Linked DNA regions of Homo sapiens. The protein of the gene in region 2 interacts with the protein of the main gene of each other region in a pairwise test. Each region holds a gene or a part of one and is shown on either strand. Other genes may lie near its edges.

Region 1 (7,027 bases), on a different chromosome or scaffold from region 2:
TTAGCTTCTAATATTGTTAGGACTTCATTTAAGAGCAATGTATTTCACTTTTAGAGTCTGAAACTTAAAAACACTATCTCTTAACTAAACTCTCTTTTGTCATTATGAACTGCTGCCTTGAAATGGTATGTGATATTTACCAGATAAGATTTAGATTTAGATTAACTCTTTCCTAATAATGTGAGACCAAACATTAAATGGTATATATTTGGGATATGAACCAGAGGAAATTTATTCAAATTTTTTTTTCAATGAGTCCTTCAATAAATTGAAGGCCTATTTAAATCGTAGGTCCAGAAGACTTCTGAGAGAGAGGGAAAAGAGAGTGCTTCAGATTCGAGGGTTAGTTTGGAAAAGGAAAAGTGGCATGTTTGTGGTATTCTGCATTAAATTCCTTGGGGAGATGCATTTTATGTGTTTCTTATTTGTTTGTGTGTTTAGGAAACCTGAGTTTTCAGTACAGGATTTTTTAAATTCCTCCTCCAATTAGTTGATAAATAATTCCTTTTAAAAATGTATTTAGCTACTTTAAAAATACTTTAATTTTAATTACAAAAATATATATAGAGAGAAAATAGTAGGAAAGTAAACTTTGTTTTTATTTGATTTTAACTCCTTTTTTCTTTGTACTGTTTTTGGATGAAATTTATGAATTCTAGAATAGAGTGGTTACATTGTAGATTGAATGGAGAATATGATTACTATTGAAAAATCAACAATAAAAGTAAATTTACTTTCCCTATTTTCGTACTTTTCTAACTGTGAAACAAAACAAGTACATTTTGATCTATTAGACTGAAAAAGGTTACAAAGATTAATAAAGTATGCTCTTGTCAAAGTGAGCCACTCCTGTGAGAATGTAATATCTTTTTCAGGGTAATTTATTGATATCTGTTAAAATGAAAAATGTTTATAAACTCCAGCAAGCATTTTTACTTTTAGAAAAGTATTCTATGACCAGGGCTTATGGGCAAAAAAATATACATAGAAGGTTGTATGTTAGCATTATTTATAACATTTTTATATCAATTATGTAAAAATGTTACTATAAATATTTATCTTTGCTATATATATAACCATAGTAGTAAAAAAAAAAAATCAAGGAAATTTACATTTGCTATAAATATGTACTTACTATGTATAGAAAGAAGAAAGTTCTTAGTGGATTATGCACCAAACCATTAGTAGCATTTATTTTTGGAATAGTAGGATTATAAGGGAAGTTTACTTTCTTTTATTTTTCTTTTCTTTTTTTTTTCACATCCTGTTTGGTGAAGAGAGACATTTACTTTCTCATCTATATGATGCCATAATGTTAAATATTATATAATTTTTACATACTATTTTTACAATATAAAAAGGTAATAGCATGCAAAAATATAAGGAGTACACATTTTTTAAATTTGGAAAATATAGAAGAGAATATTGAAAACATGTTTCCCATAAATCTCACTATTCATAAATTCACCATTGTCAATCTTTTTGGTATCTTTCTCCTCCTTTTGAAATATATAACATATACTTTATATAACTAAGGAAAAAGGAACCATCTAAATTATGTACCATGTATAATTTTGTATCTTGCTTTTTTCAGTTAACATGTGGTAAGGGTAAATCAGGAAAAACATGCAATGAATATAACTAACAGCTGCCTAATATTTTTTCACACAGCTTTGCCAAAATTTCTTTAACCATTTCTCTACTCTAGGACATGAAGGCTATTCTGTTTTTGAAAATTGTAAACAGTCCTTCAGTCAAAATCTTGTATAAATCTTAGCCCCAGTTCGTGATTCCTTAGAATGAATTTCAGAAATAAAATCACTGGCTCAAAGTGATTGAACGTTTTTATAGATCTTGATAGGTACTTTGATTGTTCTGGTTTCTATATGTACTGGTAATGTATGTCTGTGATAATCAGCATTATCCTTTTTTAATGATAGGAGAAAATGGTATATAAAAAGTTTTATTTTGTATATCATTTGATTATTAATCACATTGCAGTTTAAATACTTAATTTATGATTAAGTGATTCGCAAAAAAAAGTACAGATGTCCAATAAATATATGAAAAGATATTGAACCTCATTGGCAATTAATGAACTAGATCAAGATAATATGCTGTTAGAATGGCAATTATTGAAAAGAATGATGATAATGATAATAGCCAGTGCTGGCAAAGGAGTGAGAAAAGTACTGAGTCATGTAAATTGATATGGCATTTCTGGAGGACAGTTTGGAAATGTTTTTCTAAAACTTTAAATTATGTATGTAGTCTTAGAAATGTTACTCCTAACATTTCTAATAAATCTTAAAGCATCAGAACTTTTTTAAAAGAAAGGTATGTAGGAGGATATTTGCCTTAAAGTTTTTCATAATGATGAAAATTGGAAATAACCTAAAAGTCCAGCAACAAATGTTTGATACAGTATTTGATGACACATCCATGCAGTGCAATAGTTTAGAACCATTAAAAGAAGATAGTGCAGAGGAATAATCAATAATTTTTCAAGTGCCTATGTGATCCATGGGTGAATCCTTAACTAGTTCAATCACTGGCTATCAGCTTTTAAAAAATCAAATAGAATAAAATAAAAGCTATTTGTAAGTATTTTTTCAGAAGACTTTCACTTAAAATACATCTATATATACCTATGTGTCTACTGTATCTTAATACAAAATGTATTTCTCACTATGGTTTATGGTAAAAATAATTTATAAAAGTAGTAGTAAAACCATAGTAGTAAAAAAAAAAAAAATCAAGGAAATTTACATATGTATTGCAAAGGCAAGGTGTAATACAGGATTCCATTTTAAATACATATATAGTTTATTCATATGTAATATACACAAAGTGTAGCTTTATACCAAAATATTAATAATTATTGCATCGGTGTAATAGGGTTATGGTATTTTAACTCATTTTCTCATATTCTGATATTTTAATGAAAAAATTACTCATTTTTTAAAATTATGAAGTAGCAAGTCATTAAATTTACTTTATTATCCAAATGAAAAGGTATTTTACATGAAATATGACTAATGATTAATATATTTATCAGTCATATAAACTAATAAGAAACAACACCAAAAATTCTAATGATATATGGACATAGGACATAAGGAGATAATACTTAGGTTAGGAAATGCCCATGGATAATAAACATGGAAAAATTTATAAGTAAAGCTTTAATTTTTCTTTTTCTTTACATTACACAGAGAAGGCCAAGCTATTATTTTTGTCATTGATAGTAGTGATAGATTAAGAATGGTTGTGGCCAAAGAAGAACTCGATACTCTTCTGAATCATCCAGGTATGTGTGTGTCTTTCAGTCTGTATCTGTTCTTTGGGGTTCATTTATGTGTAATGTTTTGTTCTTTGGGTATTGCTTATACTATGTAATTATCTTTCATTTAAAATTTTTGAATTTAAAACATATATGTTATACAAAATTTATATTTTATGTACATCACCATATTTTGTAAATTTTGCATGCAATGTAAATGTAAAGCATTTTGCATTGTTTTTGGGGTGTCTAACATTTATTTCCTCAAAAATAAAAATTCCCTTTTTTCTGATTACATAAATTGTACCAAAGCAAAAAAAAAAAAAAAATCAGATGGAAAAATAAAATAAAGATCTGTGTATTTCAACACCCATTAAAATTATTTGTTACCATATTTTCATGCATTTCTCTATGTGTATCTGAGTTTGTGTGTGTTTAATTACAGCATTTCTTACATATTTATTCATATATATATATATATATATCTCCCAAAAATATCTGTAGGGTTGAGGACTGTGGGGACTATCATTGTTATTTACCAAAATGGAATCATATTCTTTACACTCTTCTGCATGTTTCTATTCTCAGTTAACACTTAATGATGGATATCCTTCCAAATCAAATTATATATAATTATGTAGTTATTCTTTTTAATGATGCCTAATATGGTTTACTATGAATGTACCACAGTTTATTTAATCATTCACCTGTTGATGTATACTTTCCTCCCGCCCAAGCCCCCACTACAAACAGTGCTCCAGTAAGTATTGTGGAACTCTGCATTTCTAGCCTTCCTCATGCCAAAAAAATTTAAATAGTGCTTGTGCTAGGACTTTCAGAAAAGGATGGTGGTTTAAGAGAACTGTGGATTTGTTAGAAATGAAATAGAAATAGTGTGGGGCTTTCTAATAAATGTTACTGCTTAACCACAATATCTTTGGTATTTTTAACAGATGACCTCAAGCTTACTGAAATTTTTGAAAAAAAATTATCCGCCCTGTACATTTTATTTGACTTTTTAATGTTAAAAACTTAGCAGTCTTGGCTGGGCGTGGTGGCTCAGGCCTGTAATCCCAGCACTTTGGGAGGGATTACAGGCGGGTGGATCACTTGAGGTCAGGAGTTCGAGACCAGCCTGGCCAACATGGTGAAACCCCATCTCTACTAAAAATACAGAAATTAGCCAGGCACGTGCACTTGTAATCCCATATGCTCAGGAGGCTGAAGCAGGAGAATTGCCTGAACCTGGAAGGTGGAGGTTGCAGTGAACTGAGATAGCACCACTGAGGGCAACGGAGGAGACTCTGTCTCAAAAAAAAAAACAAAAAACTTAGCAGTCTTGTATCTAGATTGATAATGCATTTTTGATTATGTCTTCCTTTCATATTAATCTTTCCAGTTTTTCTCTAAAAAGTGTTTCAGTGTTGAGCAGTAAAATGAAATAGTTCCTATAAAATATACTTCAAACAATGGGGATTTTGATTTCCTCAACTGAAGCCTTGTCTATGGATCTTAATGTACTACTTCCTTTATTTTATGGGATAGATTCCCAAGGGAGGGATTTCTCAGCTGAAGTGTATATGAACTTTTTAAAAAAATTGATGGCCATAAAAAATCTTTGAATAGCAAAATGTACTGTGAACAGATAAAGACAATGACAGGCAAGGGAAAATATTTGCAACTCATATCATAGCTACAGGGATATTTCTATACTACTTGTGTTTCTAAAAATCAGTAAGAATATAAAAGCTTAATAGAAAATGGGGAAAGGACATATCAGGTAAGTCAACAAAAACATAAATTTAAACATCTTTTGAATATATGGAAAGATTCTTGGCCTTTCTATTACCTATGATATGGAAAATATCAAGAAGTTTCATAGCAGTCTTTTGGCTAGGGGAGTGGAAACACTCATTCTTATACGTGGTTGTTGAAGTGTAAATTGATATAATTTTTAAGAGAAAGCAGTTTGGTAATCACTGTCTATCAAAAGAGAAATTTATGTCCTTTGACCCAACAATTCCACATCTTAAATTTATCCTAAGGACATACTGGCCGGTGTACAAAATTACCTATATACACATTTATTCATTACAGGATTGTTCATAGTTGTAAAGATTGGTAACAGGTATCTCAGTTGGGTTCTGGTTAAATAATAGTACATAGTACTAAAAGAAGAAATATTCCAGAACGGTTAAAATAATGAAGAAGCTGCTCTATATGTACTGATATGGGATCAGATCCAAGATATGTAAATAAATGAAAAGATAAAGGTATAAAGTAATGAGGTTGGCCTGCTATATGAAAATAATATATAATAATTATGTTTGCAAATACATAAAATATTTCTATGAAGATGCCAAGACACTGATGTTATGGGTTGCCTTTTCTACAGAGACCATTGTCCTAGGACAAAGTTAGGAAGGAGATTCTTTTACTGTATGCCATTTTGTATCTTCTGAATTTTGAACTATTTAAATGTATTGTCTATTCAAAAAAATGAAAAATGTTTCCAAAATCATGACAAGGTAAAAATATCTTTTAAAAATCTAGCTTGTTACTTATGATATTGTGACAAAAAACTTAAATAAGTTCCCAGTTTCTTTTCCTTCTACTTCTACTTGAAGTTTGCCTCCTTTCTGTTCACCATTAAAAAGGAAACAAAATATTTAATGCTTTTTTGTAGGTACTTCTCTGTAATGCTTATTGAGCTCCAGTCCCACCTCACCCATCTTTGGTTAAAGCTCCTAACCAGAGGGCAGATGGTCCTAGGAAGTATTTTTAAAATTTTGTTACTGCTCAAATACATGCCTAACAGTGTGACAGTATGTGTCTTTAAATGTTTCTGTGTGTGTGATATGAAAAAAGATAATTGAAAAAAAATTTCATGGGTTTCAGTACTAAAGATTTGCTGCAAAATGACCTAAAAAGCTGGAAGTGTGATGATAATCTTATTTTCTCTTTTAGATATTAAACACCGTCGAATTCCAATCTTATTCTTTGCAAATAAAATGGATCTTAGAGATGCAGTGACATCTGTAAAAGTGTCTCAGTTGCTGTGTTTAGAGAACATCAAAGATAAACCCTGGCATATTTGGTAAAGTTTTATATTTACTTTTCACTGTAGCTTTCTGAAAAATATACAAGCTTCAGAGTTGTTTCTTCTGATCTCATTTTTTAAAAATAAGTGATCAAACATGGTGGCATATAAGCTAAGGATTTTGTTTTGTAGAATTGTGGCATTGTAGGTTTTTACAAATATATTACTGTTAAAAACCTTTTTCAAATTTTTGGGGGGATAGGAAAATATAAACAACTCTTATAATGGAATAACTTAAAAGCTCACTTACTTACTGACTTCAGCTACACTGATTTCCTTCTGCACATGGAGTCAGCCAAGCACAGTCCCATCTAAGAGCATGTGCACTTGTATCCCCCTCCTTTGAATCATTTTCCAAAATAATTTTCCTGGCTTGCTAGAGTCACTATTACCATGTGACTGCTTTTTTTTTTGTTTATAGTCTGTCTGCCTATACAGGTGTGTTAGCTCCCTGACAGCTGGGGTTTTGTCAGTTTTCTTCACTTTAATAATCCCTACAATAGTCATAGTGCCTGGTATGTAATAGGTACACAATACATATTTGTTAAAATGAATAAATGGAAATGGAAATTTTAAGTTTACTTAGACATCCTAATAAGGTTGAACTCTTAAGTAATTAATGTTGAAATTGTTATGCATTGTTT
Region 2 (7,027 bases):
CCAAAGAAATTTAATACTGTTCCACTACGAAAAGCATCCAATCTGGTCTAGACATATAAATTGGGTACCATAAATGTTTGCTAATTATTACACAAAGTTAAAATCCTAAGGAAAAGTCCAATCCAATTATTATGTTCTTGTAAGTCTGACCATGTGTGAACCTAGTAAAACTTTCAAATTGTTGGTATTAATTTTGCCTTTATAAACTGTTTTAAATCAAATTCTATTCCAAAAGGACAAATAGCCATCAAAGGTTCTTACTTGTGAAATAAGCCCCTGAATTTCAGTTTTTAGAAAAAAAAGCATTATCTAGATATAGAATTTTAAATATTATTCTCATGTATCTAAAGGCTGAGCCTACAAGCTGAAAAGTCCTGTTATTAGTGCTTTATAAAGACTGAAACCTCAACATACCTCACGATCAGCCTCTTGCTTCTGAGTATTTTAGTATTTTCAAGAGTTGAAATGCATTTAAAAAAGAAACAGGAAACAGGAATACTTACTTGAACCTGGCAGGTGAAAGAGGAGTAGGAGGAAACATTCCTGGTTCAAAAGAATCAAAGTAAGTCACTGTCCAAGAAAAGCTGCAACAGGAGAATCCAGCAGTTAGGGATATTATAAGTAGAGTCCAGAATCCTTAACAGGAAAAGAGAGGGGAAAAAGTACATTATTAACACCAAAACAATTTAAATTAAACCAGTACTCTCATGTTCAGATCATGTATATTTCTCATCTTCTAAATTATATGGATCTGATATTTTAAGAGATTTGAACTTATTGCAAGCTAACTTATGTAGAAATAAGTGTACATTACTAAAGCACAACTAGAAGTCATATCATTGAATATTTTAATTAAATGATAATACGTGGGAAAAAAGGGTAAATTCAACAAGAACATAACATCTTCAGTTTTATAAAATTCAACTACAGAAAACATGGTCAAAACATTTCACAAGACTCTTAAGATGTCTTGAGGCCAGACAAGGTGGCTCATGCCTGCAATCACAGTGTTTTGGGAGACTGAGGTGGGAGGATGGTTTGGGGCCAGGAGTTTGAGGTTGCAGTGTGCCTAGATTGCACCACTGCACTCCAGCCTGGGAGACAGAGTGAAACCCCGCTTCGAAAAAGAAAAAAAGTTCATCAGATTTTTCATTTAATTTCATAAATCATACCTTGCTATCTTTATTATTTAGTACTAAGTGATTCCTTTCATTCCACGCCATGCACTTTTGAAACTTGCCTCAATTTGGGGGTATCCCCTCTTTACAGTTTTCTTATGAACATTATAAACCTATTCTGATTCTTTAACCTTGCTCAGTATATGAACAAAAGTTGACTCCTGATTTACAAATGTGTGGGACCTTAGATTTTATTCGCACTGAGTTTGGAACTGTATTTTCTCACAGAAGTCAAGTCAAAAGAACAATATTATAATGGACTTAAGGAAAAACGGTTGAGAAGAATAGGAGGCATAAAGGGAAAAGAAAGGAGTAAGCTAATTTAAAGGTTTTTGGATACTATTCATAACCCATTAATAATAATAAAAGGATAATGACTTCTTCTTGTGGTTATAGGAAGACAGGAAATACTGATATTTAAGTGGTCAACTCCCTTTAGTAAGAAGTACAGCTTTATTTTGATGTCAAGTTTTCAAAAATTTTATAAATTAACTCACTTATTCACCCACTCAATCTATATTGAGGGGCTACTATGTGTTGGTTATTGTGCTAGGTAATGGGGATATAGGGATGAGCAAAATAAAAAAGATTGCTGTCTTCATGAAGTAATTCTAGTGGGATAGGAAGATAATAAAACATGTAAGTAAATTAACAAGATAACTATATATTGTGATAACTATTTTGAATAAATAAGATGTTACCACTTTAAGGAGGTAACATCAGAATTCAGATGGAAAATGTAAGCATATTTTTCTTGGAAGAATAATAGTTAATTCTAAAATTGACATGAAATAATAAGCAAAAATAGAGACTAGTCCAACCAAATATTGAAATAGTATAGGAACTGAATACCTAAAACGGTGTGTACTGATATACAAATAGACGACAGGGCCGGGCGTGGTGGCTCATGCCAGTAATCCCAGCACTTTGGGAGGCTGAAGCAAGAGGATTACTTGAGGCCAAGAGTTTGAGACCAATCTGGCCAACACGGTGAAACCACCTCTACTAAAAATACAAAAATTAGCTGGGCATGGTGGTGCATGACTGTAATCCCAGCTACTTGGGAGACTGAGGCAGGAGAATCACTTGAATCCAGAGGCATAGGTTACAGTGAGCAAAGACAGCACCACTGCACTCCAGCCTGGGTGACAGAGTGAGACTCTTTCTCAAAAACAAACAAACAAACAAACAACAGAACGAAGCAGAACACAAGATTCGGAAGAAGGCCCAAATAGATTAATAAAAAATGTTACTAATTCAATGGGGTGACCACTTACAAAAAGGAAAAGAAGTTAGATCCATACCAGATACCCTATACCAGACTAAATTCTAAAACGTACCAAATAATCTAAATATAAAGTTGTAGAAGCAATCATTGGAAAAACTGGAAAAGTCATTTATAGCCTTGGAGAGATAAAGACCTTTCTAACCATGATACAAAAATTCAAGACTCATATAAGACACAGAATTTCAACTATATACAGTCAGCCCTTCCTATCCACAAGTTCCGTATCTGGAATTCAACCAACCTTGGATGAAAAATATTTGGAAAAAAAAAAAGTAACAATACAACAATAAAAATAATGCCAATCAAAACCAATACAGTATAACAACTATTTACATAACATTTACATTATATTAGGTATTAGAGAGAGTAAATGGGAGGATGTGCATAGGTCATATACAAATACTATCCAATTTCATATAAAGGACTTGAGGATCCAGATTTTGGTATCCAGAGGGGGTCCTGGAACCAATTCCTCATGGATACTGAGGGACAACTGTATATAGGTAAACACACATATTACTATATATGCATAGCAAAATAAAATGTCAAATTGAATGACAAAAAATTTTTAAATAAAACATACCTTTGCAACTTACAGCATAAGGGAAAATTTCCTGCTAATACAGATAATTCCTAGAAGCCAATAAAAAAAAAGACCAGCAATCCAAAATCCAAATATAAAGTTAAATGCAATTGCAGAATAAAAACTACAAATGTTAAAACATGAACAGATGCTCAATTCAATACCATTAATAATCAGAGAAATTAGGTATCATTTTTTCATCAACTGACAAAAATCAAAAAGTTGGATAACATTCTCTGATGCTGAGGCTGTGAATAAACAGAAACTCTTCATGCATGGCTGTTTTGGAGAGTAAATTGTTTTAATTTCTATGGAGAGCAGTTTGGCAGTATCTGTTAAAATGATGCACATATATGTTCTTTACTCCAGTAACTTTATATGTCTTTAGGACAATATATCTCTGTATATTATAATATACAATTTTATATATATATACCTTTGTATATTATACAAACCTGTATAAAATGATGTATATACAAGATTGTTCTCTGTAGCTTTGTTCATAATAACATAGATTGAAAACAACCTAAATTATCAGTAATGAAGGTAAAGGATTGGTTAATTAAGTACATCCATACAATAGAATACTATGCAGCTATAAAAATGAATGAGGAAGCTCTTTAGGTACTGATATGGAAAGATCCTGAAAATATACTGGTGAGCTGAAAAACTGAAAGTTCAGAACAGCTCTATGCATTTGTATAAATAAGGGGAAAATATGTATTATACACATACATATATACATATGTTGTATATATGAAGAAATGTATATTGTACTTAGATATTTTAAAAAATTTCTGGAAGGATGTAAGAATTTAACATTGGTTCTCTGAGGAGGGAGGAAAGAGTGGTTGGGAGAAAAGAGTAAGCCTTTTCAGTCTATACTCTTTTACACTTTTTGAATTTTGACCCATATGACTATTCTACCTATTCAAAATAGAACTAAGTAAATTTGTAAAAAATAAAAAAATTCAGTCAGGTAGTACTTTTTGAACAGAGGAGCAGCAAGGAGGTCGTATCAGAATCTTTGTGGACTCATTTTTAAACTGCGTCTTTAAAACAGGTTTCTGAGAGTGTGTTCCATGCCTCAAGAATACAGGAAGAGTTGAGAACCCTAGCAGATGACTTACGAATTATCAAATTTCCTGACTATACAAATTATCCACCAGTCTTATTTTAGCAAGAAGCAGGTAAAAAGTACATGCAATGGACTGTTTGTAAATCTTGTGAAGCTCAGTAACAGACTGAAAAAACTGTTAAAGTACAGACTCAGAAGAATTATTAATAGAAAGTGTGGTAAATTATATCTCCTGATAGTTCCCTCCTCCCATCTCCCACCTGTTAAAGAGCTAATGGGCTCTGTGTTCATTTCTCCAGAAGAGGGATGTGGCAAAGCAGAAAGAAGAAATAGCCTGTTTTTCTACTTTACATTGCACAATATTTACAGAAACCAGTGTACAGATATAATCAGGGATAGGAGTGTGGATAAACACAATATGTCTTGAATGCACAGCAAAGACAATGAGTTGATTGGAGTACAGATAAAATGTTTGTGTGGAACAGGGAGAGAGTGAGGGGCTTATCGACAAGTGAGAAAGATTTCCTTAGTTTAAATAAAGTAGGTTGTATGCATGTTTGCACTTATGTGTGTAAATGGGGAAAGGGAGTAGTGCTACTGGGGCTTCCTGACAAAAGCATCTAGAAAAGCCCATGCAAAACCACACAGGGAGTATAGCTGTGTACAGTATCTTGGTAGGTAAGTACAGAGCCAAGCCTGCAGATGCCTCTGCCCTAAGCCTGGCATAGAAACACCACATGGTCATGTGGCTGGAAGTTGCCACATCTGAAACACCATCCTGACCACAATAAAAGATACTTCAATACTCACTATAGCAAATGTCTTGAGGATTAGTCTGCACCTTCACCCCAATATCCTGGCACAGTATCCACCTCTAGCACCTCAACCCAACCTGGAATTGGGTGAACAGAACCTTAGAATAACCTTCCTACCAATCTATCAGGATAGAGGGTAAAAAAAAAAAATTATAAGATTTAGTCTACAACTACAACTTAGGGGTTGCTATACTGCCAAATAGCTGTTATTTGCTATTATTTAGATGACTATGTCTAAAGAGGGGAGAAAATAATTGACAAGTTTACTCAAAGTTTAACATACTTCTCCAGAACAAAGATGATAGTTAAGAAAAATAAAGTGTTTGGGGACTGCTATAGAACGATGAAACTTCTAGATAAGTGAGGAAAGACACAAAGTAACATAAAAATAATCAAATGTGAGGCTTTCTAAAGCCTGTTGAACTTTTTCACTTGAGTGCTTTAATAGGGTACCTGTCAAATTTAATACAAGAATATTCTTGAGTTTTTCCAAAATTACTATTCCACAATCTAAGTACTTACTTCGCATTGAGCATTTTTATTATTTTATGTTCATTTTAAACTAATCAGAAGCTGCATCATGGGTAAGTCAGGTCACAATGATAGGGGTAAAAAAAGTACATTGCAATATTGTGGTCTAGAAGTGTTTATGATTCGGGAAATTACCTAATTCATTTGCAAATAAGCAGAAAAGCCACAGAAAATGGTAACTCCCCAACAACTAAATTTTTTACAAGTCAGTACCTGCAGAATCCTCATGCTAAAATTTTGATGTTTTATAAGCCCTTAGAAAGAATTAACAACTTTAAAAAGAATATAAAAATGAAAGCATATTAAATGAAATTCTTCCTTCCTCAGTTTGCCAATTTCATTCCTAAAAGTGATCAGCTAAGAGTCTGGTGTGCATCTTTCCAAAAATTATATACATATCTAGGTAATACAGGTACATATATAAAGCTAGTTATATATAAAACGTATATATATCTTCTCAGCTTATTTTCCACAAGTGAGATTCTCACCAGAAAAATGGTTCTGCATTTTGCTTTTTTCACATATTCTGGAGACCTTTCCTATCAGCACCCACAGCCACAGTTCTGTTGTGTGTGTGTTTTTTTTTAATTCTAGCTTTTCTCTATTACAAACAATGCTCCAAGGAACATTCTTGTATTTAAGGGTACAGTTGTACAAGGACATAGATGTTACAAATTTCCAGAATAACTGCTACCAAAGGTTGCAGGCTTTTAAATAAATACACACATCCTTCGTTCTTCTCTACAGCTCAATATTCATCAGTTGATGAAATGATGTGTGTGCATATATGTGTGTACACACACACACACACACACACACACAGACAAAGTCTGGCTCTGCCACCCAGGCAACCTCCACCTCCCAGGTTCAAGCAATTCTCTGGCACAGCCTCCCAAGTAGCTGGGATTACAGGCGCCTGCCACCACACCCAGCTAATTCTTGTATTTTTAGTAGACACAGGGTTTCACCATCTTGACTAGGCTGGTCTTGAACTCCTGACTTCATGTTCCACCCGCCTCAGCCTCCCAAAGTTCTGGGATTACAGGCGTGAGCAACTGTGCCCAGCCAAAGTGATGTATATTAATTTTTTTTTTTTTTTTTGAGAAGGAATCTTGCTGTGTTGCCAGGCTGAGTGCAGTGGCGCAATCTCGGCTCACTGCAACCTCCGCCTCCCAGGTTCAAGCAGTTCTCCTGCCTCAGCCTCCAGAGTAGCTGGACTACAGGTGTGCACCACCACATTCAGCTAATTTCTGTACTTTTAGTAGAGACGAGGTTTCACCATGTTGGCCAGGCTGGTCTTGATCTCTTGACCTCATGATCCGCCTGCCTGGGGCTCTCAAAGTTCTGGGATTTCAGTCAGACGCCACCACGTCTGGCCAATGAAATGATGTATACTAATCTTTTCCATCAATTGAAACCTCTTAAGACTGTTTTCATCCAAAGCAAAAACAGGGATGGGTAGGAATTTCCTATCCCAATCCCTTTGCTGGAATATTATAGACACCTATCTAAGGGTATATTTGTTTTGGCTTATTTTTCAAAATAAGCCATTCT
Region 3 (7,749 bases), on a different chromosome or scaffold from region 2:
TGAAGTCCCCAGAGATAATTATCTCTACCTTAAGCTGTAAACACAGCATCTATTCATCAACATTTGTTATATTATTAATTAACTTGTTATCCCATGGGGGATACTGAAACAATGAAAAGTCTCCATCATCCTAGCCCTCCCTAAGATGGCAGGAAGAAGCTCGGAGGGGAAAGACCAAGAGCCAGAGGTAAATCAGCTCTCCAGATTCTGCCAAGACCAAGGTAAACCAAAGTGCCACCACCAGGAGAAAGCACAGCCTTCACCCTCTAACACATGACGCTAACAGGATCTACTGCCTTAAAGATATTGGGGGCATTAAGAGTCTATGGGAACTCTGGTACTGGGAACACAGTGCCTGGCCCTTGGCAGAAGTGCTGCCTCTGTCACCACCATGCATCTCTGAAGACCTGGGAAAGCGCCCTCATCAGTGTCCCCAAGCACTGAGCAGATGGGTGGCAGGAAGGGAGTGGTGTGACTGAATTCTTCAGAAGCATATTCCTGTACCAGATTCTGAGCAACAAGAAAACCTTGGTAAATGTACACTATTTGGGTGATGGTTACACTAAAAGCCCAGACTTCACCACTACACAACATATCCATGTAACTAAACTGTACTTTTGCCCCCTTCATCTATAAAAATTAGATAGTTTTTTTTTAAAGAAAATCCTGAAAGCCTTTTTCTGGTCCCAGGGGAACTCTTGCCCAGGCTGCTGTGCTGCTGCTGCTAACTAAGCTCCCAGAACGCTGCCGCTGGCAGTGTCTCCACCGGGAAATTGCTGAGGCCTGCTGAGCGGCTGAGGTCAAGGGTCTTTGGCCATGTATCAGCTCTGCTCCGACTTGCCGCCTCCTGGAAATTGACACCTGACTATGCAAAGTAGTTGAAATAGTCTTTGCAGAGCAAAGAAGCCGTCAGCGTTTTTCCGTGCTGAGCCTTCAAACTGTCAGATCCAATGGGGCTAAAAGAACAGGGGTGGGTAGTAATAGTAACATTAATAGACAGCATTTAAACAGTTTTTACCAGGCGTCAGGTAATTTATGTGCAACGACACCAATTATCTCATCTAATCGTCCCAACTCTCACTGTCAGAATCTCCGTTGTACAAATGGGGAAACCGAGGTCCTACGGCGTTAGGTAATCAATACGCGGTCTCATGACTAGTAACCGGGACTGGGCTGTCTCATTCTAGAGCCTTCCTTCTACACTCTCTCTCCGTCCTCTCACCCCTGCTCCCGTTCCTCCCCTTTGGAATTCTCTCCCGAGTCACGCCGGACTTTTTGGGTCTGGCGGAGGCCCACGGAGCACCTCCTTGCACAGCAAAGGCCCAGCGCCCTGGGACTGGCGTGCGCACGCACTCGGAAACAGGAATAGACGCGTAGACCTGTGCGCGCACGTGCAAGCAACACGAGTCAGGGGGTGCACAGGGGCCCCCACCTTCCTCTAGACTGCCCCCCGCCGGGTTCCACACGAAAGCCCCCGGCCACCCCCGCGGAGACCCAGCAGCCCCAGCCCGCAGCATTACCCAGTTGCGGGCCCGAAAAGCCTGCACGCATCGAGAACCCAGAGCGCCCCTGCCGCCGTACACCAGCACCCGGCGCGCCTCGCCTGCAGCCGCCGCCGCCGCCATCCTGCTCCTGCCAGCCCGGCTCCCGCAGCTCCGAATGCCTCGAGCCGGAGCGCCGCGCCCCGCCCCGGCCGGCCAACCCCGCCAAGAGGGAACGCGCGGCGGCCGCGCCCCGCTCCGCGCCCGCTGCTGCCGCCTAGCGCGCTGCCACGCTCGGGGCGCCCCGCCACCCGGAGGGACTGTAACTTCGGCCAGGCCCTGCCCCTGGGACGGGGACATCGGCGAAGCCCCTCCTCCCACCCGCCAGCAAGTGCTGGGCCTCGGGGCGTGCAGCGAGCCGGGCTAAGGGCGAGGAGGGTGGAGAGCGGGTGTTTTACGAGCATTAATTTGTGAAGTGTAAGCATGTAAAATATAGTATAGTACAATTTTCGACCACTGTTTTGGCAATTTTTTATTTTTAATTGTGCATCAAAATAGAGATTTAAGTATTCCCACCTGCCAAAAAAACAGAAGAGGTCGCTCCGCTCAAGGAGCTGAAAGTCCACCGCCGAGACGAGACAAACCACACTAGGTCTTATTTCTTCTATCTAACCGTAAATTTATACCCATTAATCCAAATGGCCCTTTTACTATATGCCACCCATCGCCAGACACAGATCCTGGCATTTTCTCCCTTGTATATTAGTTATTTCTGCCCATGGCCTGTATCTTTAACACAGAGCCTCTCATCTACAGCACTACTGACATTTTGGGCCAGATAATTATTTGTGACAGGTGCTGCCCTGGGTACTGTAGGATATTTACAGCATCCCTGGCCTGCATATACTAGAAATCAATAGCAAACCCCTACCCCTCACTCATAAGAATCAAAAATATCTCCAGATTTAACAGTTGTCTCCTAGGGGCAAATTCATCACTGATAGAGAACCAGAGCTCTAACACTCTCATAACCTTCTTGATAGCAGAACCCTGTATTACATACATCTTTGTGTCACTTCCCATCCACATATAACCTTGTACACAGCAGACACAGATGTTTGTTCAGTAAACTTGTGCCAGGTAAAGCATGCAGAAATATGTCACTAGAGAAGAGGATGCAGCCAGCAGCACATTTTGTTGTCAGAAGCTTCATTATCAGAAATAGAACTGCTAGGAGGCTGGATGGAGAGGAGAGCACCATCTATTTAGTGCTCCTTATATCCAAGGCACTGCGCTAAGTGATCTGCCTGTGCTATTTCACTTTACTCCACACGATAATCCTATGCAGATTAGAAAGCTGAGGCATGAGAGTCACAGACACTTGTCTGGAAGAGTGGGAATTTGAACACAGGTCTTCAATAGCTAGAGTTCCACTTAACCACACCTTTGTTCAGCAAGACAAAGGCTTGTTGGGAATCAAGTGTTTCCCTTAGAGTTTTTCTGAAAACAATTGCTTAACCCTCAAAACACCAAAAGTTGACACAGGTCCCTCACTGACGGCAGAAATATGACTCAATGATATTTACGCAAGTCCTGACTTGTCAAAGCATGCTTAATGTTAAAATAAGAACGTGAACTAACATTATTGATCACTTAATGTGCCAAGCAGTCTTCTGAGCCTTTTATATGTATTCTGTTATTTTTTACCAGAAAAACATTTGCTGTTTCAAAGTCACTGGGATGAAGATGAGCTGTTGTAATTCAAAGACCTGAATTTCAGCCCCAGCACTGACATCCAGTTTTTCATGAGAGAAATGGCTGAAATCGTGCATCTCCTGTTTACCTTAAAGGGTTGCTGGAGCATCAGAGGTGAGCAAGCATATGGTCAAAGCATTTTGCATTTTGTACATGGTAAAGTGCCACTCATCTGTATATATAGTAAGAGACAGGATCTCACTCTGTTACTCAGAGTGGCATGATCATAGCTCACTACAGCCTTGAGCTCCTGGGCTGGAGCAGTCTTCCAGCCTCAGCCTCCAGTAGCTGGGACTACAAATACACGCCATCAGGCCCAACTATTTTTTTTTTTTATTTTTTGTAGAGATAAGGTCTCACTACATTGCCCAGGCTCAGAAATTCTCATTTTTATTTTCATTGTGGAGTGGCCACTGAAGTGAGCCCCAGTTGCGAGGAAGGAAACTGACATTTCCATTAATGTGTCCCTCTGCTTCCTTGACACTCTCCAAGTGAGATTCCTGGGACCCCTATTGGTTAACAGTGCAACTTCCTGAACCCCCCTTCAGGCTTCTGTGACCAACTAAGAAATTTTACTGCTCCACTTTTGCCCAACTTTGCTCCCCAGAGATATGGATAGAGTGACTGTTGCCAGTCTCACATGATGTTAAGTTGATATTCAGGAATAAGGTAAAAGTCAAAATGTCAAAGTCCACAGTATAAGATAGAAAGGAAAGAATATTTCATTCCTAGTATCTACAGATTAAAAGGAAAGCCTAGATCTTCCACTATTAGAAGAGATGAATACCCCAGCAGTGTGGCTACTATTTGCTAATACACTAGAAAAACACTTTTCTCTCCCATTTCAGATAACGTAGAAGGAGGGACGGGTGAGAGCAATGTTAAGTGTTGGATTCCAGGCTACCCCAACAGCCACAAAGTAATTCTAGTCACAGTTTACCCCCAGCAGATTCACACAGTGAGAAATTCATAAGGCCCTATTTACACATTTCAATATTAAAGCCCCAAGAACCGGGGTCATTTGATGGTATTAATAACAGTCCTAAAGATTCTGACAGCAGTGACATTTCAGAGAAAGAAATGCCAGGGCACCCATGCATCAGCGAGATCGACATTTGATACTGCGCATTGTTGGCAATATTCAAGTGCTAATCATTCTGTTTTTGTTTTCCTTCTAACACATGCATTTTTTGAGATTGGTTTGCGTCTCTTAATCTTCAGAGCTACCTGATTTTGCTTATTACTAACTCCTTTATCATTACGAGGTCCACACCAGGGCTATTTAAATACTTGAAACGAGGAACAGTTAAACAGTCTGCTGAAACATTAGTCTAGGAGGAGATATAAGGTTACTTCCTTCAGTAACACACTCCGCTACATAGTCAGGTGAAGATTGTCTCTGTAGAGGCTTCTGGATGTGGTTGTAGGAAGCATGGACTGTGCAAGCTTGCGCTGAAGGAGGACGAGAGGATGGACCTACAACCTTGAAACAGAGTGTTTGGAAGAGCTGACCTTGGAGCAGAGCATTGCCGAGTATCTGAAAGATGTCAATGACCCTCGCTGCTGCTCGGAGACCTTGGGGATGACCTGCACCCACTAGCATGCCTGGATGGTTCAAAAAGGCGTGGTATGGGCTGGCGTCTTTACTCAGCTTCTCCTCCTTCATCCTGATCATCGTTGCCCTGGTAGTGCCCCACTGGCTGAGTGGGAAAATCCTTTGTCAGACTGGAGTGGATCTGGTCAACGCCACAGACAGAGAGCTGGTCAAGTTCATTGGGGACATTTACTACGGGCTCTTCCGAGGGTGTAAAGTGCGGCAGTGTGGGCTTGGGGGCCGCCAATCCCAATTCACGAGTGAGTATATTGGGAGCATGAAAGCTGATTCTAGGCACTCATTTTTGTTAATGTGTAAGAGTGCTTATGTCTCATTGTGGAATTTGGCTGCTGCCTCAACGTCAGGCATAATGTCAAAGTCCACAGTGAGCCAAGGGTTCTGGATCCACATCAAAAAGATCTTTCCTTCCTTCCTTGCTTCCTTTTCTTTTTCTGTAGAGATGTATAGAAACATTAGAAATAAGGATTTGTGCATTTTTGCAGTTTACCTCTATTAATTATGACTATTAAAATATTGAGAGTTTACACGTGTCAGACATTGTAAGCACCTCACGCCACTTGTCTCCTTAAAGCCTTACAACAAAGTTATACAGAAGGAATTGTTAATGTTCCCATTTTCCAGAGGAGTACACTGAGGCTTGGAGAGGTTACATAACTTACCTGAGGTCACCCAGCCAGGAAACAGTAGAGCCGGACTCCAGACCCATGCCACATGACCACAACAAGTGGGTGGAGGCTGCCTGCAGAACTGAACCTTTGGGAAGCATGATGACCCTTTCCACATCTACTTTTGTAAAAGCTTCATAGTCTGAGAAAATGCAAAGGGGCACTGTGCTTGGGTTCTGGAATCAGACTACCCTGGCTGAAACCCCTACTGGAAAGTTTACTGGTGGGGAGACCTCAAGCAAGGCACTTGCCTGTTCTCTGTGAACGTGAGCGGGCACCGACTTTGGCTGGCATTCAGTGTAGCATCAGAGCTGCCCAGGATGTAAGCAGAGCAGTCTGCACAAACAGGAATCCAAGCTGGACTTAGGAACGGGCTTCTGGAAAGGAAAAAACAAAACAGGCAATATTCTGCAAGCCTTTTGAATCGATGAGATCACTGGTGAAAAGTGTCTGCACAAAACCGTAATTAATCAATACCATGCCAATGTAGGGTGATACAGAATTGTATTCATTCCTTGATTTCTATATTTCAGTATTGTAGTAGTTTATAGAAATCTGGCCAAGGTAAATGTCGTATTAAATTTATAAGGACAAAAAGCTGGAACCGTTGACAAATATAATACAAATTGTCATCATTTAAACACACAAAAATTTACATTTGTTATGTATATTCAAGATCAATATGTCTGGGCATATTTATATTTACCTAGCAATTAGATTAGACCCTGGATATTGAACAAATAGCTCCATCAAAATTATAACATAAAACTTGAAAACACACACACATAAACAAATAAAAAAAAGAAATGCTAAAAGCTAACCATGACAACTACATGGACTACTCGATTCTGAACTAGATGCTTTGCTATAAAGGATGTCTTCGGGACTTTAGGGGTCAAGAAAACTTCCCCTTTGCACTCTGAAGGTTCTCTAAACAATCTACTGACAAAAGGCAGATTAATAGGGAAAATGGCTTACACATTTATTAGCATGCATAGGGGAAAAATCACAGAGTGATTGTCCGCTATCTCAATGGGGTACAGGTGGTTGTATCCTCTTCATCTTAGGGGAAAGAGAGATGGGGAAGTGTGGATGATTTTAGGGGACTAGTAAATTATTTTTAGGGAAATTCAATGGGCTTAAAGAACATACAGTGAGCTGGGACAAAGTCTGTTGAGCCCACAGAGCAGACATTGGTTTGTGACAAAAGTCTGTCCAGCTGTGTTAACAGACTTTAGTCTTTCTTCCTGTGATATGGGTACAATTAATGAACACTCAGGGAAGGGACCAGAGGTCTTTTTCTTTGGTAGGTCTGGATGTAGGCAGGTAAGGGAATGTCAGAGAACAACCTCATCCTGTGCTTATGAGACAGACAAAGAATGGAGAGACACGAGGGAGAGGGGAGGCCAGAGAGACCTTGAGACTTCTTCACAAAGCTTCATATTTTAGGGGTGTTGGTTTCTGAACCCCAACAGGTAAATCGTTGAAACTTGAATGGGGTGAGAAGATTAAACAGCAGTCACATGCCAGCATTAACCTAATGACCAGACCCCTGCCATTCCCAGCTCACAGAAATGTAAACTGCTTCGAGTAGGAAGCTGCAAACAAATGCATATTTTGTTTGAGCCTTGGAGGAACTCAGTAAGTACTTCTTGCCTTCCTCCTTCTTCCTTCTTAGAAGGACACCAATGGGAAACATTCCCCTGGGTTCATCTAACGTGGTCTGGTCTGGAAAGCATCAGAACCCTGTGAGAAGCATAAAGGACATTTTATTCTTGTCCCTGAGTAGGAGCGTATTTGAGAAGGTTTTGTTTCCTGCTGCCCTGGGGTTGTCTCAGAGGAGGGTCTGTAAACATCCATTCGCAGTACCTTGGATGTGATTCTCTTTCAAAGCATTCACGAGGAGCCTGGGGCCAGGTTCCTCCTGTGCTTGGCTGGCTTTACCCCAGTACAGCTCAGGGACACTGATAGTGCCAGTCTAGTCTCCTTTAGATTTACAGCTTTTAATTCTAGCACAGTGTAACCTCGAGGCAGCTACGGGGTATATCAGAGCCTCCCACAACCAGGAGTCTGTTTCTCCTGGGGTCTCTTTCTGCCATTCACTATCCATCTGTAGAAAAAAAAAAAAATAATCCCCACAGTCGCAGATCAGTGTAGATGGGGACGTAAGTGAAAATGCTTTGCAAACTCTGGGATGGGGAGGTTTATTGGGTCTCGTTCACAAACAGCCACT
Region 4 (7,027 bases), on a different chromosome or scaffold from region 2:
ATGCGGAGGACCAGCACCAGCACTGGTCTCTGAATTCCCTCAGTATTGATTACTATTTTCACTATCTCGGCAAGGGGAATGCGGCAGGAGAACAGGGTGATAGTGGGGAGAAGGTCAGCAGGAAAACATGCGAGCAAAGGAATCTGTCACAAATAAGTTCAAGGGAAGGTACTGTGCCCGGATGTGCACGTAGGCCAGACTTATGCTTCTCTCCACCCAGACATCTCAGTGTAGCAGAGTAGCAGAGCAGCATTGCCGCCAGCATATCTCTCCTAATCCTCCTCAGCACAGACCCTTTACAGGTGTCGGGCTGGGGAACAGTCAGGTCTTTTCCTTCCCACGAGGCCACATCTCAGGCTGTCTCAGTAGGGGGAAGCCTTGGACAGTATCCAGGCTTTCTTGGGCAGAGGTCCCTGTGGCTTTCCACAGTGCATTGTGCCCCTGGTTAATCGAGAATGGAGAATGGCAATGACTTTTATGAAGCATACTGCCTGTAAACATATTGTTAACAAGACACATCCTGCACCGCCCTAGATCTCTTAAACCTTGATTCCATACAGCACATTTCTGTGAGCATAGGGTTGGCGCTAAAGTTACAGATTAACAGCATCTCAAGGCAAAACAATTTTCTTAGTACAGATCAAAATGGAGTTTCTTATGTCCTCCTCTTCTACATAGACACAGTAACAGTCTGATCTCTTTCTTTTCCCTACAAGAACAGTTTGTGCTATTTCACCATCGGCTGTTTCTACTGGTGGCATCGTGTCTGCACTCCCAAAAGCTGCAGGTTTTGGAGCATTTCAGATTTTAGGTTTTTGGATTAGGAATGCTTAACCTTGGCCGGGCATGGTGGCTCATCCCTGTAATCCCAGCACTTTGGGATGGGGGGCCAAGGTCGGCAGATCAGTTGAGGTCAGATGCTCAAGACCAGCCTAGCCAACATGGTAAAACGCCATCTGTACTAAAAATACAAAGATTAGCCAGGCATGGTGGCACGTGCCTGGAATCCCAGCTACTCAGGAAGCAGCGGCAGGAAAATCACTTGAACCCAGGAAGTGGAGGTTGCACTGAACCGAGATAGTGCCACTGCACTCCAGCCTGGGCAGCAGAGCAGTATCCTGTCTGAAACAAAAAAGGAACGCTAAACCTTTAGCTCAGACAAGTTATTAAGAAAAATCAAGATCACTTTAAGATATGAAAAAAAAAAAGAAAGGCCAGGTGCCGTGGCTCACGCCTATAATCCCAGCACATTGGGAGGCAGAGGCAGGTGGATCACTTGGGGTCAGGAGTTGGACACCACCCTGGCCAATATGGTTTAACCCCGTCTCTAACAAAAAACTCAAAAATTGGCCAGGCGTGGTGGCAGGCACCTGTAGTCCAGCCTGGATGACAGACTGAGACCCTGTCTCAAAGAAAAAGGATGAAAAATCTACTTAAAAGGCTTGTTATTGGCCAGGTGCGGTGGCTCACGCCTATGATCCCAGCACTTTGGGAGGCTGAGGCAGGCGGATAACCTGAGGTCAGGAGTTCGAGACCAGCCTGACCAACATGGAGAAACCCCCTCTCTACTAATAATACAAAATTAGCCAGGCATGGTTGTGTGCACCTGTAATCCCAGCTACACAGGAGGCTGAGGTAGGAGAATCACTTGAACCTAGTAGGCGGAGGTTGTGGTGAGCCGAGATTGCGCCATTGCACTCCAGCCTGGGCAACGAGTGAAACTCCATCTAAAAAAATAAATAAATAAAGGCTTGTTATTGATAGTAAAAGAAGCTCTCAATTAGGATTTTACAAGCTCATTTTCATCAAACATGGGAAATTTCTGTGCAGAGCTTCATCTGAGAAACTTACTTGGGATTTTTTGATGTGATCATTTTCAGTTACCTGTCTCAGTGGAACGTGATGCCAGTTGTCATGAGTAGCAATAGTAATAAAACTTGTTGCTAATATTTTGGCAACCTACCTTAAGCCACACATTTTGTATGGTTACATGTAATATGTGTCTTGATCTCTGCAGCAGCCATATTAGTTAGCTGCCATTATTCATTTTTTAGATGGAAAAACAGAGACAAAAGTGTGTTTAAGTAACTTGTCCAAGGTCACTTAGGGCCATGATTTTGACCTAGGCAGACTTATTCCTGTGTTCTACTCTTAACTACCACACTCTTTTGCCAGCTAAGAATGTCAAGTGGAGCCAAGTACAATTTGTGGTCAGCTGATTCCTTATTAGGACTCAGATGTTTCTAGATCTTACAGCTTGGCCAGTTGTAAATGAAGAGGAAAAAAAAGCAAGTGGGAGTTTTCTATTCTAGTGGACAGTAGTGACTCAGATGCTAGGGAGTATATATATCATTTGTCCTGTAAATGCCTCTGATGATCCATGGAAAGGTAGAATAGGCTCCCTTTCTGTCAGGTGGCCCAAGGAGGACATACACCTGAGTGGATACAAGTGTGTAGCTAAAGGGAAGAAAAATAGAGTCTGAGCTGGGCACAGTGGCTCACGCCTATAATCCCAACACTTCGGAAGGCCGAGGCGGGTGGATCACCTGAGGTCAGGAGTTTGATACTGGCCTGGCCAACATGGTGAAACCCCATCTCTACTAAAAATACAAAAGTTAGCCAGGTGTGGTGGCTGGCACAATGATGATTTTGCCGAGAATATAATGTACTTGAAGGGAAGAGGTTAAAGTGAGGGATGGGAGGCCTGTAAATCCACCTTGTTGGGTGTTACTTCCAGAGTCAGGACAGAAATGGAGAAACAAAGCAGGCCAGATGGCAGTAGCTTGGACCCATGCTTTCCTTCAGTGAGGTAGCCCCAGCTGATGCTGGCCGTGAGAGAGGGCAGCCCCAGTGTGGCCATATCTTCAGGTTCTTCCAGAGAAGCTGGAAATCCATATTTTCTTGTAAAATACCTCAATTTTATTCACCGATTTAATGGGAGCCTTAGTGAAGGGGAATGATCCCTCCCAAAGTCTCAGGATCATTGTGAAGATGAAAAAGCACAGGTATTTCAGGTGTGCACTGGAGCGCTTACTGATTTCCCTCAAGTCCAGGGTGGGCAAGCATGACTCAGTGCCCAAGAAGGCTCTGGAAAGGGGAGAATGCATCTGCTCTCAGTGGAGAATGGGAGGGCTGGCCCGTGTCATTGCATTTATGTTTCGTGGGAAGCTCCCAGCCCTCATTCCCATAACGTAGTGTCCTTTCTCCTACATCCCCACCTCAGGGTCAGTGCCCTCAAGCTCAGACAAGTCCAAATCCTCTCCCCATGGTATCTGTCCTCTCCCATGTCCACTGTATGAGTCCCTCCCAGGTGTCTCGTTCTAAAATATTTCTGCCAGGCTTAATGGGTGCTGCTCTCTGTATAATGGATGGTCCAGATTGACAAACTTTTTCTGTAAAGGGCCAGATCTTAATGCTTTGCAGGCTTTATAATCTTAGTTGCAGCAACTCAGTTCTGTCATTGTCTTGCAAAAACAGCTATAGACAATCTGTAAACAAATAGGCATGGCTGCATTCCAGTAATACTTTATTTCCAAAACCAGGGAGTAGAAACAGTTTAGTGATTCCTGGTCTAAATCAGTGTTTTCTATACTGATTGTTATCTGCTCTTTGGCTGGATTTTGACCCTGGGATCATCTTGGTCACTGTGGTCATGAAGTACCTGGCAGAGAGAGTTAGGTAGCCAGAAAGCATTTGTTGTGCAAACGAAGGTCCCACTGATTCCAGAGACTTCTCTTACTCTGCCCAGCCTAAGGAGGCCTGTCCCTCTGCCGTGCAACCCCAGCTGCAGTTCAAATCTTTTTTTTTTTTTTTTTCCTGAGACTGGGTCTTGCTCTGTCATCCAGGCTGGAGTGCAGTGACATGATCATAGCTCACTGCAGCATTGATCCTGAGTTCAAGCCATCCTTCCGCCTCAGCCTCCCAAGTAGCTGGGACTACAGGCATGCCACCATGCCTGGCTAATTTCTTTCCTACTTTTTGTAGAGATGGGGTCTTGCTGTGTTGCCCAGGCTGGTCTTGAACTCCTGGCCTCAAGCAGTCCCTGGGCCCAAACCCCCTGTAATCCCAAAGTGCTGGGATTATAGGCCTGAGCCACCATACCCAGCCTAAATCCTTTTATTTATTTATCCCATAATAGCCATCTGTGAGCCAACTGCCCAGCCTAAGAGCTAGAACAGGTTAGCAATAACCTTTGAATTTCCACTTAAGATTTCCTGCTTTTTTGAATAGTTTTACCAAATAGGTAAATATTCCTAAGTGCTATATTGTTTAGTTTTAATTTTAGAGCTTTGCAAACTGTGCTGTATGTGGTCTTCATGAGTTATTTTCATGCAAGAGTTTAATAGTATTCATCTATGAATGAATGCCTCTGGGTGAATATACTAGAATTTATGTATTCTGTCAGTCAACATTTGCATTATTCCCAGGTTTTTTGCTGTTATGAACAATTCTGCAAAGAACATTTCTTGTCCATGTCTCCTAGGGGACATATTGAGGAACTGCTATTTGTAGGCACTTCTGACCCCATTATGTAGCTATGACTATCCACAACTTCTAGTACCAGACCGAGTTCCCAAAGGCAGTGACTCAGTGAATTGGCCAGTTCAGTGCCAGGGTCTGCCAGGCCCCACAGCTCCCACACCTCTTCCTTGCTCCTTACCTGTGCCTTCTTTCCCCCAGATTCAACTGGCATGCTGGGCCGCATCGTCTTTGCCTGGTGGAAAGGGTGAGTTTGTCTTCCCGGCCAGCAACTCTGGCAACTCTTCCCAGTAGTGGTAGTAATGATAGTAATAGTATTGCCATTAATTGTGGCTGTAAGGGTTCCATGAGATGATCTATGCAAAGTGCTTAATGCCCGTGGCATCGTACATAATGGCTCAGTAAACACTAGCTACCATTAACAGCTGTAACTGTGCCCCCTGAGCCTCTGTATGTTGTCTCTAATCCTTACAGCAACTCTGTAGGATGGGATTGGATGTGTACATTTCATAAATGTGAAATATACCTGCATGAGGGAAGTTACCTGCCCAAACCACACAGCTTATAACTAGCGAGATGGGATTTGAACCTGAAGCCTGTGCTTTCCATGGTATTGGGCAGTTCACTGGGCAGAACCCTCAACCAGGCCATGTGTTCAGGATCTCGTTATGTGTGTCTGATACCTCTCCCAAGAATATTCCCATTCCCTCCAGGAGATCTCATACTGAGACTCGGGCCTAATGCTGCAAATCCTGAGCTGGGCTGGGGCTGCAGTATCTCCTGCCACTGGGACCCTAGAGAAGTTGTTTCCAAGTGTTTGTGCACAGGGCAGGGAGTCACTGTCTGACGAAAAGGGCAGGTGAGGTAGCCGTCCACGGTGTTGTGTAACAGAAGTACCCTAGGCCTGGATGTCGGAGCCCGGCTCTCTTAGCCTTTTCCCCAACTCTGCGTGTGATCCAGGGAAATCATATCCCCTGTGAGGGCTAGTTGTCTGTAACATGCAGGGTTACACACTCAATGTGATGTTTACTAGTCCAAAACATGCTCACTGGGTACCCTCACTCTAAAGCAAGAAGAAGAACGGAGAGAGGCAGAGGAACTCAGGAAGAGCCTCCCTCCAAGGACAGACAGAGGCTGGGGAGCAGCCACAAGACAATCAGGGTTTTTCCTTGGTAAATCATGAGTTCATAAGCGGGAGACACTAGGTGATCAGTCAGTCACTGAAGGTTCTCCCAGCTAATGGTGGCATTTTAGGTAGCAGTGACCGGCTGTGGGGACAGATGTCTGTCTGGGGGTGTGGGTTTTCCTGAGCTCTTCAGACTTTACTGTGGTCCAAGACTCCCCACACTGCCCATAGGATGTGTTTCTCCTTAAGTCCAAATTACAACAACCTCTCCTCCCCAACAGGAGCAAACTGGACTGCAATGCCAAGCAGTGGAGGTGAGGAGGGGCGGGGACGGGGGAGGGGAGTCTTCCATTATGAAAGTCTCCTACCTCTGACCTCTAACCTCTGATCCCTCCCCAGGCTTTTTGCGGACATCCTCAATGACGTAGCCATGTTCCTTGAGATTATGGCTCCTGTATACCCAATCTGTTTCACCATGACCGTCTCCACCAGCAACCTAGCCAAGGTAGCTGCCTGTGGGGGCACCCATCTGCCTAAAACACCTGCCTTGGTAGTGTGTGAGTTTACCTGGGCTCTGTGAGTTTACCTGCCACTTCAAGAAGAATAAGAAAGTTCAGATGTTTCTACTCGAACCCAACCATCCTTTCTGACCCTCCTCCAGCCAGACAGCATCTAGTGCCCCAGAAAGTGTAAGGCAATGTCTAGAGCCACAGGACTGGGGAGGGAGCTCCGAGCTGAGAACTAGAAGGGGTTGTCCAATGTTGACATTTTGGGACCAGCTTCCTTGACTTCCCTTTGGTTCTTTCAGTACAGTATTTATTGAGTGCCTACTGCATATTTGGCACAGAATGTGGGCCCCCGTCTTTGAAAGGAAACCACACATAATTGCACCAGTGTTTGTGGAATTATAGGTACAGGTATTCTAAATGAGAAATGTTGGGGCCTGCAAGAGGCTGAGGCGGGGATTCCAGCCTGGTCAGGGAGTGTAGGAAGAGCTCCCCTGAGCCTGGGTCCTGAAGATGGAGTTTAAGGTGCAGGGCGGGTGTTCCGGGCAAAAGAAACAGCACAGCTTAAGGTCTGGAGGCGAGGTGGAGATGGAGCACAGACCGCACAGTGAGCTGGGGGACACGCGGGGCTCAAGCACACTCTTCCTCCACGCCAAGCTGTTGCCTGCACAACCCTTGCAGGTTGATCTCACCCAAATGAGGACACTGAGGCCTGGCATGGTTCAGTAAAGAGCATATCCTGTCAGAGTTAAGTCCCTGGCCCAGAGGAGAAACTCAAGAAAATGGAAAACCCATTCCAAGGCCCATGTGTCAACTTAAAATCACGTTAGGGCCGTGTTTCTCCATAAGTACTAGCATTTGGGGTGCAACGGTTCCTTGTGGTAGAGGACATTTAGCTTCCTTGGTTGCAAGCCTA

The links.
Region 1: the proteins of ARL6IP6 (region 2) and ARL6 interact in a two-hybrid assay, tested with the Homo sapiens proteins (one study listed by BioGRID).
Region 3: the proteins of ARL6IP6 (region 2) and CLRN2 interact in binary tests that used the Homo sapiens proteins (3 or more experiments, as listed by UniProt).
Region 4: the proteins of ARL6IP6 (region 2) and RUSF1 interact in binary tests that used the Homo sapiens proteins (3 or more experiments, as listed by UniProt).

What each region holds. Positions count from the first base shown.
Region 1 is NC_000003.12:97,781,740-97,788,766, forward strand, and holds part of ARL6 (ADP-ribosylation factor-like protein 6), read left to right. Parts: intron 1-3,215; coding exon 3,216-3,310; intron 3,311-6,250; coding exon 6,251-6,380; intron 6,381-7,027. UniProt on the Homo sapiens protein: Involved in membrane protein trafficking at the base of the ciliary organelle. Mediates recruitment onto plasma membrane of the BBSome complex which would constitute a coat complex required for sorting of specific membrane proteins to the primary cilia.
Region 2 is NC_000002.12:152,728,603-152,735,629, reverse strand, and holds part of ARL6IP6 (ADP-ribosylation factor-like protein 6-interacting protein 6), read right to left. Parts: intron 3,100-7,027; exon of another isoform or gene 3,050-3,099; intron 637-3,049; coding exon 504-636; intron 1-503.
Region 3 is NC_000004.12:17,510,430-17,518,178, forward strand, and holds the start of CLRN2 (clarin-2), read left to right. Parts: upstream 1-4,735; 5' UTR 4,736-4,837; coding exon 4,838-5,090; intron 5,091-7,749. Other genes in the region: QDPR (dihydropteridine reductase), read right to left, coding at 1,521-1,625. UniProt on the Homo sapiens protein: Plays a key role to hearing function. Required for normal organization and maintenance of the stereocilia bundle and for mechano-electrical transduction.
Region 4 is NC_000016.10:31,498,385-31,505,411, reverse strand, and holds part of RUSF1 (RUS family member 1), read left to right. Parts: intron 1-4,680; coding exon 4,681-4,726; intron 4,727-5,886; coding exon 5,887-5,919; intron 5,920-6,004; coding exon 6,005-6,110; intron 6,111-7,027.